2 linked regions of the Homo sapiens genome follow. The protein of the gene in region 1 purifies or fractionates together with the protein of each later gene. This does not show direct contact. Each region holds a gene or a part of one and is shown in the gene's direction. Other genes may lie near its edges.

Region 1 (5,318 bases):
CAGGCGTGAGCCACCACGCCCGGTGTCCATCTTATTTTCTAGAAGGGTTTTTATCAGTTCCTAGATGCCATATCTGGTAAGTTCTTTGTGCACAGGGAAAGAGCTTTTCCCTATGCCTAGCAAAATATATTGCTAAAGATTTTAAGATTTGAAACTCGTGTTTTGGTCAGGGCTCATATCTGGGAGGTGTGTGTGTGTGCGTTTGGTTTGGCACTGTTTTTATTTATAATGGGTCTTTATAATTTGTACATAGAGGCCTTATTCCAGTCCCCTTAGTTTCTTTCATTTATTGAAAAATTATTTTAGGTCCAGGCACAGTGGCTCACATCTGTAATCCCAGCACTTTGGGTAGGCAGATCACTTGAGCTCAGGAGTTTGAGACCAGCTCTAGCAACATGGCAAAACCCTGTCTGTACAAAAAATACAGAAATTAGCAGGCATGGTGGCATGTTCTTATAGTCTCAGCTACTTGGGAGCCTGAGGTGGGAGAATTGCTTGAGCCTGGGAGGTCGAGGCTGCAGTGACGCATGATCACACCTCTGCATTCCAGTCTGGGTGACAGAGCAAGACTCTATCTCAAATAAATAAATAAAAATTATTTTAGAGTCAGGGTCTCACTCTGTCACCCAGGCTGAATTGCACTGGCTCTTCACAAGTGTGACCTATCTCACTGCAACCCCTGGGACCCCAGGTGATCCTTCTGCCTCAGCCTCCCAGGTAGCTGGGACTACAGGCGTGTGCCACCATGTCTGGCTGATTTTTAAACACATTTCTGTAGAGATGAGGTCTTACTATGTTGCCCTGGCTGGTCTGGAACTCCTGGCCTCAAGTAATTCTTAATGAGCCACTGTACCCAGCCCTTCCTACTTTCTTTATTCTAGTTTGACTTAAAGGTAATTCAGGCTTGATATTTTTAAAATATTCCTTGAATTTGGCCAGGTACAATGGCTAACGCCTGTAATCCCAGCACTTTGAGAGGCCGAGGCAGGCAGATCACCTCCAGTCAGGAGATCGAGACCAGCCTGGCCAACATGGTGAAACCCCGTCACTACTAAAAATACAAAAATTAGCTGGGTGTGGTGCCGCATGCCTGTAGTCCCAGCTACTCGGGAGACTGAGGCAGGAGAATCGCTTGAACCTGGAAAGCAGAGGTTGCAGTGAGACGAGATTGCAGCACTGCATTGCAGCCTGGGTGATAGAGCGAGACTCTGTCTTCAAAAATATTACTACGTGATGATTAACAATTTTGCTGTAGGGCAGAAAATACGCAAGAGGAACTCCGAGAATTCCAGGAGGGAAGCCGAGAATATGAAGCTGAATTGGAGACGCAGCTGCAACAAATTGAAACCAGGAACAGAGACCTCCTGTCCGAAAATAACCGCCTTCGCATGGAGCTGGAAACCATCAAGGTGAGGGGCTGAGAGGAAGTGTGCTCAGGTGTAGACAGGCGTCCAACACAGGCATGGCATGCTTGGCTGGAAGAAGGAACCCTGCAATGAGGGACTCCAGACCCCAGGCCCATGCTCATCTCTGGAAGGGCCTGTGCGGCAGACGTGATCTTTGAACTCTTTGTGCCTCTAGTGGGTGGTGCTTTTTGTTTTGTTTTTTTTTTTTTTTTGAGATGGAGTTTCACTCTTGTTGCCCAGGCTGGAGGGCAGTGGCGCGATCTTGGCTCACTGCAACCTCCACCTCCCAGGTTCAAGTAATTCTCCTGCCTCAGCCTCCTGAGTAGCTGGGATTATAGGCGCCTGCTACCACGCCTGGCTAATTTTTTTTGTATTTGTAGTAGAGACGGGGTTTTATGTTGGCCAGGCTGGTCTCGAACTCCTGACCTCGGGATCCATGATGGGTGGAGCTTTGAGAAGCAAGTCACACACATGTTCCCGTGGACTTTCTTGGTTGTGTACACTGATTTTATAGGGCACATGGCAGGGAGACTTTTTTTTTTTTTTGAAACAGGGTCTTGCTCTGTTGCCCAGACTGGAGTACAGTGGCTGGATTACAGCTCACTGCACCCTGGACGTCTCAGGTTTAAGCAGTCCTCTCACCTGGGCCGGGCGAGGTGGTGCATACCTGTAATCCCAGCACTTTGGGAGGCTGAGGTGGGCAGATCACGAGGTCAAGAGATTGAGACCATCCTGGCCAACATGATGAAACCCTGTCTCTACTAAAATTACAAATATTAGCTGGGCGTGGTGGTACACGCCTATAGTCCCAGCTTACTTGGGAGGCTGAGGCAGGAGAATCACTTGATGGTTGGAGGCTGTAGTGAGCTGAGATTGTGCCACTGCACTCCAGCCTGGCAACAGAGCGAGACTCCGTCTCAAAAAAAACCAAAGTCCTTCCACCTGAACCTCGGGAGTAGCTGAGACTACAGGCATGCGGCACCATGCCTGGTTAGTTTTTGTATTTTTTATAGAGACAGGGTTTCGCTGTGTTGCCCAGGCTGGTCTTGAACTCCTGGACGCGAGCAGTCCTCCTGCCTTGGCCTCCCAAATTGCTGGGATTATAGGCATGAGCCACCACCTGGCCAGGGAGACATTTTTAGGGTATGGAGGTGTTGCTAGAGTAATATCATCAGGTCCAATATTGTAGCCCTTAGCTACATTTGGCTGTTGAAATTTAATGAATTAAAATAAAAACTTAATTCCTCAGTCACAGTAGCCACATTTCAAGTGCTTAGGAGCCACGTGTGGCCAGTGAGTTTCCTTAGTGGACAGAGGGGCTGCAGACCATTTCCTTCATTACCAAAAGGTGTGTTGCACTCTGCCAGTTCAGAGCAGGTTTCTCGACCTGGCTGCTGTTGACATTGGAGCCCGGATCATCCTCCGTTGGGAGGGACTGAGGTTTGCTTTGTGGGTTTTTTGTTTGTTTGTTTTGTATTTTTGAGATGGAGTCTTGCTCTGTTGCCCAGGCTGGAGTGCAGTAGCGCGATCTCGGCTCACTGCAAGCTCCGCCTCCCAGGTTCACACCATTCTCCTGCCTCAGCCTCCCGAGTAGCTAGGACTACAGGCGCCTGCCACCACGCCTGGCTAAATTTTTTGTATTTTTAGTAGAAACGGGGTTTCACCGTGTTAGCTAGGATGGTCTTGATCTCCTGACCTCAGGATCCGCCTGCCTCAGCCTCCCAAAGTGCTGGGAATACAGGCGTGAGCCACTGTGCCCAGCCTGTTTTTTTTTTGAGATGGAGTCTTGCTCTGTTGCCCAGGCTGGAGTGCAGTGGCACAATCTCACCTCACTGCAACCTCCGCCTCCCAGGTTCAAGTGATTGTCCCGCCTCAGCCTCTTGAGTAGCTGGGATTACAGGCACCCTCCACCACGCCTGGCTAATTTTTTTTTTTTTTTTTTTTGAGACGCAGTCTCACTCTGTTGCCAGGCTGGAGTGCAGTGGCGTAATCCCGGCTCACTGCAACCTCCACCTCCTGGGTTCAAGTGATTCTCCTGCCTCAGCCTCCTGAGTAGCTGAGATTACAGGCACACACCGCCATGCCTGGCTAATTTTTGTATTTTTAGTAGAGATGGGGTTTCACCATGTTTTCCAGGATGGTCTTGATCTCTTGACAGTGTGATCTACCCGCCTTAGCCTCCCAAAGTGCTGGGATTACAGGTGTGAGCCACCACGCCCGGCTAATTTTTGTATTTTTAGCAAGGACGAGGTTTCACCATGTTGGCCAGGCTGGTCTCGAACTCCTGAGCTCAGGTGATCCGCCCGCCTCAGCCTCCCAAAGTGCTGGGATTACAAGCATGAGTCACCCCGCCTGACCACACTGTGGGATGTTTGGCAGCATCCCTGGCCTCCACCCTCTAGATGCCAGTAGCATTCCCCGCACCTCCAAGGTGGTGAAAACCAAAAGCACCTCTAGACATAGCCAGGTATCTGGAGACCCAGTGCTCTGCAAGGTAAAAACCATCCCTTCTGTACATGCTGTAGGGCTCAGCAAGGGATCACTAAGTCAACACCGTGCCCCAGAGACTGGCTCTCAGCCTTAGCTGCCAGCCAGCATCACTAGGCCAGCTTCATAAACATCCGACAGGCCTGAACCCTCTCTCCCCATCCCCATCTCCCCGCCTTGCTCTGAGATTCCATTTCTCAGTAAGTCTGGGTGGGGCCCTGGCATGTCTGTGTGGTTTTCTTTTTCTCATTAAACTCCCAATGTACATTTTGATGAGCTGCTTCATGGAAGAGTCAAAACTGTGTGTGCCCAGGGCTAGGTATGATGGACGGTGAAAGGGGAAGTGCTGGTTGCCTTCTTTGGGAAGACAAACCTAATGCCATGAAGCAGTTGGGGACGTGAAGCTCAGTCACAGAACTCTGATGTGGGGGCCTTTCAAGAGAAAAAGGACTGGCTGGGTGCGGTGGCTCATGCCTGTTATCCCAGCACTTCAGGAGGCCGAGGTGGGCAGATCACCTGAGGTTGGGAGTTTGAGACCAGCCTCACCAACATGACAAAACCCTGTCTCTACTAAAACTACAAAATTAGCTGGGTGTTGTTGTATGTGCCTGTAATCCCAGCTACTTGGGAGGCTGAGGCAGGAGAATCACTTGAACCCGGGAGGCGGAGGTTGCAGTGAGCCGAGATTGCACCATTGCACTCTAGCTTGGGCAACAAGAGCGAAACTCTGTCTCAAAAAAAAAAAAAAAGAAAGAAAAAGAAAGGACTGCATGGGTTGAGGGAGGCTGTGTGGAGGGTGTTTGTAGGTGTATGTGTTGCTGACACTTGGTGCTTGGGGAGATGGGGCTGAAGGAGAGTTGATCTGTACCCATCACAGACGTGGACAAGAATGGGTGTCGGGTGGACCTTGGCAAGCCCAGCTTTACTAATGTATAGGAAAGGGTGTGGGACCAACAAATGGATTGGGGGTTTGGGGCAGGGCGGAGGAGAGGTCCCAGACACGTTGAAGGTGGTCATTGAAGCTGAAGCTTTCTGTTGGAGACCACAGAGTGCAGCTGGCCGTCTGCAGATCCATCTGCCCCATAGGTGTTGTTTGATCGCCTTCAGGGGTTTTTGTTCAGCATTTCCCCATGAACGTTTTCCAGCATATAAGGCTGAAAGAATTTCCAGTGAATACCTGTGTATCCACCACCACCTAGGCTCTACCAATAATATTTCCCCTACTTACTTGCCTTTTATTATATATATTCCCCCATCCATCAAAATTTGTAAAGCTTCCTGTAAAAAGATGGATTTCTGGCCAGGCATGGTGGTTCATACTTGTAATCCCAGCCCTTTGAGAGGCTGAGGAGGGAGAATTGCTTGAGACCAGGAGTTCAAGGCCAGCCTGGGCAACATAGCGAGACTCTGTCTCTACAAAAAAAT
Region 2 (5,318 bases), on another chromosome or scaffold:
GACACAGTTTATCCTGTATTCTGTAAGTGCTAAAATGTCTCTTTGGGTCAAGCCAGATCAGTCAAGACCTGGTACCTAGATTACATCTTAGTCTCCCAGTAGAATCAGGTTTCTAGAATTGAGTTTTAGTATAGTGCCAGTGGCTCAGATTCATAGTTGTTAATAAGATGTAGCCCTATTAAATACTTTTTGTCTATAACAAGGATGTAGTTAAGGATTCTGTTCATCGACATCCTCAACAAAAGACATCGCTGTGTAATCTTAGTACCAAAACCTTTCCTGATCACTTATCTGTTTTCATCTCATGGGCACTGTAAACTGTTTTGCAAGAAGCGTTTTCCTTTTTGAATTTGCTGTAAGAAAAGAGCTACATTCATACTCTTCCCTTAGATAAAGATATCTTTGTTAATGATTTTATCAAAAAGTGGATATAGATTGCATCTAATATATAAATGTAAGATTTTAAGTTAAAACTAGCAGTTTTGTATGTATGCAGTTATACAGTACCACATTTATGATTTTGTTTTCAACCTCAAACTACATTATATGTTCTGTTTTGTAGTCTGTTTCACCTGATAGCTTAAACATGTCTGCCAAATACCCATGTCTAAATTACCATAGTTTGTTGCTTTGCCTTGATTTGGGCTAACGTGCCAACAGTTTTGCTCACTGTTGCTTTTTTACTATTTGTGCAGCTGTCAGCACAGTGAAAAGACAAACTATGTCTTTACTAACATTATGAAAATAGTTTTGACTGTGTGGACCCTGAAAAGTTCTCAGGGTCCTCCAGAGGCCCAAAGTTCACAGTTTGAAAACCACTGACTTAGTAGTTTCTGCAGTTCATGCAGAAAAGGACTTTATCTATTTCAATATTATAACAATGCCTTCTCTCCAGTATTTTCATGTTTTTCATTTTATTTTTTACATTTAAAATTACCTGGAATTTTATTTTCACATAAGGCATCAAATTGGCTCAATTTTTTTGAATGACTAACCAGATATTATAATACCATTTTTTATAATCCATTTTTTCTCCAAGTTGAAATGCCATGTTTATCACAATATGCATGACCTAACTTTGCCCCTGTTCTTGTTTTTCTTTTGCTCTACTCATTATATTTTTAGTTTTATGTACTTTATGTATTTGTCACAAATCTTTACTAAAACAAGGTGGGATATAAATGGATCAATAAGTGTAATACTGGAATGATATGGTATGTTACCTGTTTTAAACAAGATACTTATTTGATATGTGTTGGCAAGTTTTAATTTATAACTGTTGTTCCTTACCATCATCATAATAAAACAAATATTTCTAGGTTGGTGATGACAAAACTGTGAAGCAGTGGAAAATGGATGGGCCAGGCTATGGAGACGAGGAAGAGCCATTACATACAATATTAGGAAAGGTACAAAAGTAAATTGACTAATAGCTTGCCTATTAACATTCTTTTATTTAAAATTATTTTATAGTTATAATTTCCTAAGATGGGGAAGAAGATGCAGATAAGAAACGAAAGACTTTAGGCTGTAATTGTTGACCCATTTACGCAATATTTAATGCAGCTAAAGTCCTTTGATGCTAAAGAATTTTAACAGTTTTTTTTTTTTTTGGTATTCATTGTAGTAGAGTTTGATTTCTGTTTTTAGCCAGAGGATACAATGAAACATTTCCCATGGGAAGACCACGGAGAAAAAGATAGAAGTTCAGAAAATGCTTCAGCTTGTCTAGTTGATGTCATCATAGATCTTACACAAAACTCAGAATTTCTTAGTTGAAAGACTCCTTTAAGAAATGAAGAAATTTAATAGTATTATGCATCATGTATAAATCTTATTAATGTTTCTACCAAATTATTCTGCAAATCAGGTGATGGGTGGTTTAGTTTTAGCATAAGAATAATTTAGAACATTTGGTCTATCCATGTTTTATAATGTTTACATTTTTATATTAAGCAAACAATTCCAAAATTAGATTTAATCTTTAAATTAAATCTACCTTTTAAAAATCACTTTGTCGTTTCAATATTATGGTTAGTATATAATATTTAGGTTCTGCTTTAGGTTTCAAGAAGACTAAATGTTCTTAAAGGGATAGGGGAATGGGGTATGAGTATGAGGTAGAGATAATTTGTAGTTGGAAACACGTTAGTAATTTCTAAAACAAAATTGGTTTCATTCTTAAAATGTCTTGTCTCATTATGGTATTGTTTCCCCCTTTAAGTAAGGACTTCAAAGAAGTTTCTTTGTGAACAGGGCTTTTCTCTAAAAAGATAGTATAGATAAATATATTTAAAATATTATTCTGCAGATTTGAATTAGTAATGAAAAAAATCCTCTTAACCTTTTTGCTTTTAAAGACAGTGTATACTGGGATTGATCATCACTGGAAAGAAGCTGTTTTTGCCACATGTGGACAGCAAGTAGACATTTGGGATGAACAAAGAACTAATCCTATATGTTCAATGACCTGGGGATTTGACAGTATAAGTAGTGTTAAATTTAACCCAATTGAGGTAATGTTTTTTTTTAAGTATGTTTTACTTATTATGGCTTAATAATTTCAGTTCTGTTTAGAAAACTTTTGAATGTATGATAGAAACTTCTGAATTTTAATGGTGTTTTGGCATTTTGTCAGTTTTCCCGATTGTAAATGAGTTCTGATACCTTTGCTCAAATCCCAACATGTTTCCCAGCAGTTTAGTCCCAGATACTAGAGTTAAGCATTGTTAGAGGAGTGGTGTGTGCATTTGCCCATTGGGGTAAAATCCAAGTAAATATAGTCTTGTTTTAACTTTAGTTTTACTCATGCCTTCAACTTCATGTTCCATAGATTATGTCATTGTACATTTAGGAAAATGTTAATTTTTCTACCTGCCTTGGAGGTCAGAAGAAGGAGCATTGGACATCATTTTGTCTATTTGTAATTGGTAAGGTACCAATGCTTCATAAAAACATTTGTGATTATTGTTGAACTGCATGGTAATTAGTTATAGTTATATTTTTCTTTGCTCAGAAGTCTGAATTGTGATTCCCAGTTCCTCCAGGCCTAAGGGAAGAGTTGGAGATTGGCCACTACATGTCGTCTGTTTAGGTCTGAATTTAGGAATGGAGGCTGTCCTGAAGGCTAAGCTAGCCCTTGGACTCCAGATCTTTCTCTGAACTTTTTCTTAATGCATAACAATAGATGAACTGATTGTCCAGAAGACTCAGTAGGGATATGTTTTTCCTGTTGAAAGAAAAGGCAATCATAGCATATATAAGCCAATTTTAGCAGTTATTGCGAGGCTACCATTTTAGGTAGTATGAGAGAAAAATCCTAATATGCAAGTGTTATGCTCTTAAAGACCCAACCTGATAAAAGATAGGAAGTAAGGTTGAGTCAAAATAGTAAGGTATAAAAATAGTTTGTATGATATACTGGAAAATGAGATGCTGCAGTGCGATGTGAGCTTGGCCTTGAGGAATTACTGAGAAGTCAGAGGACACTCTTCCTGCAACTACCACATGCTCACACACACACTTTCTAGAGACGCTACAGGTCTAGAATAGGTTGGCAAACTAGTCTGTGAGCCACATGTGGCCCACTGCCTGTTTTTGTAAATAGAGCTCTGCTAGAAGACAGCCATGTTCTCTTGCGTACATATTGTCTGTAGCTGCTTTCGTGCTATGATGGCAGAGTTAAGTAATTGCCACAGAGACCATATGGCCCACAAAACCTAAAATACTTACTCTCTGGCCCTTTACAGAAAAAGTTTTCTGATTCCTGGTCTGGAGTGTCTGTCTCTATTATATCTTTCTCACTCCATCCTCCATCTTCCTTCCTTATGTTTCCCTTGGTTGTAGAAGAGAGAAGTGGCATGGAAAGGCAGCTACCTTTGCAGAGCAGGACCAAGTGTAAAAGTTGATAACATATGTGAACATTTTTTAAAAGTGCTATCCAAATTCAAGATGGTGACGGTATTACGTACTAAAAAAAAAACACAAAAAAACCTAAACAGACACTGGTTCTTACTATTTAGAGGAACAAAAAAATCTTTTGCTTCTCTGCTTTGGTGAACATCTGTGTCAGAAGAGCCGATCACCAATTCTAAAATCGTAATTATTAGGGATGACCTAGTGACCATGTTTTTCAAACTTGCCTGTATAGCAGCTGTATTTGTTCAGCTGTTTTTTTTTTTAATTGCTATTAACCTTATGAACTTAGTGGTAAAAGTAAATGGTGTGTGTGTCTCTTATCCTGTTTTAAACTTAATGGAAAGGGCATGTTGCTGTGAACAAATGGAGTGTATTTGTATTTGTCTCCTCTAATCATTAATAATTAATTTTCTCTTAAAATATTGAAGCCTAGAATTCTGGTAAAGCCAAAAGTTTATGCTGATCATTGGGACGTTTTACAGTGTGAAAGGTGGCATTTGGTCTAGGTAGATTGTTTTGCTTTGTTCAGATCAAAGTCTTTCTTTTTAGAAATGGAACCTGGTCAGACCCTGAGGCGACATAATGAGAAGCCAAGAAAGGTTGAGGGACCTCACTAGGGAAGTCTCAGAAAAGCAGCCATTAAGATAGCAGGCTTTCAGAAAGAACTGAGAGGAAATCATGATCATAACATTAGCTTTATGATGTGTTATTTGAATTGCGTACAGACAGTAGGAGGAGTTAGCTGGCCATGCAACTATTTAGTAAATAGCTCTTCTTGCTGCCCACATACTTGCAATAGGAAGTAATTGTAGGCAGAAGCCAATAGTTGTGAGTGTCAGGAACCATGAGTGAGGAGGAATGATGCTACAGAGAGAGGGTTTCAGGGATCCACTGGATGATAGAGGGCTTATTTTTACTTAATGCCAAGGGGTTATGTGAGTACCATGCACATTTATAATTGACTTACAAATAAAATAATTAGAAAAATCTTCAAACAGTTGGACAAAAGACAGGCCTAATTTATAGAGAGTTAACAACACGAAGAAACATTTACTAATAAAACAATAAATTTATATAGCTAGGAAATACTGTCATACAGATATTTTAAATGACACTTTTAAATGACACTACCCAGTGCTGCCCAGTTGCATTAAAATGGACATATCCCACATTGTAGTGTATACTGGTACAGCTCTTTGGAAAAATAATTAGCCCTAAATATCAAAAGCCATAAAATTGTTCATACCTTTTGATTCAGTAATGTCATTTGTGAAATTTTATCCTAAGGAAATAATTCAAAAGAAGAACTACGTGGGGGGGAAATGTTTATTGAAGTATTACTTATAATAGTAAAAAACAGGAAACAAGTCTTAAGTTGAAGAGTAGGTAAGTAAAATATG

What was found. The genes of interacting proteins can lie anywhere in the genome.
Region 2: the proteins of NDE1 (region 1) and DCAF13 purify together in Homo sapiens (affinity purification with mass spectrometry; one large-scale study listed by BioGRID and IntAct). This does not show direct contact.

Annotation. Positions count from the first base shown.
Region 1 is NC_000016.10:15,666,031-15,671,348, forward strand, and holds part of NDE1 (nuclear distribution protein nudE homolog 1), read left to right. Parts: intron 1-1,255; coding exon 1,256-1,409; intron 1,410-5,318. UniProt on the Homo sapiens protein: Required for centrosome duplication and formation and function of the mitotic spindle. Essential for the development of the cerebral cortex.
Region 2 is NC_000008.11:103,424,737-103,430,054, forward strand, and holds part of DCAF13 (DDB1- and CUL4-associated factor 13), read left to right. Parts: intron 1-1,319; coding exon 1,320-1,409; intron 1,410-2,360; coding exon 2,361-2,516; intron 2,517-5,318. UniProt on the Homo sapiens protein: Part of the small subunit (SSU) processome, first precursor of the small eukaryotic ribosomal subunit.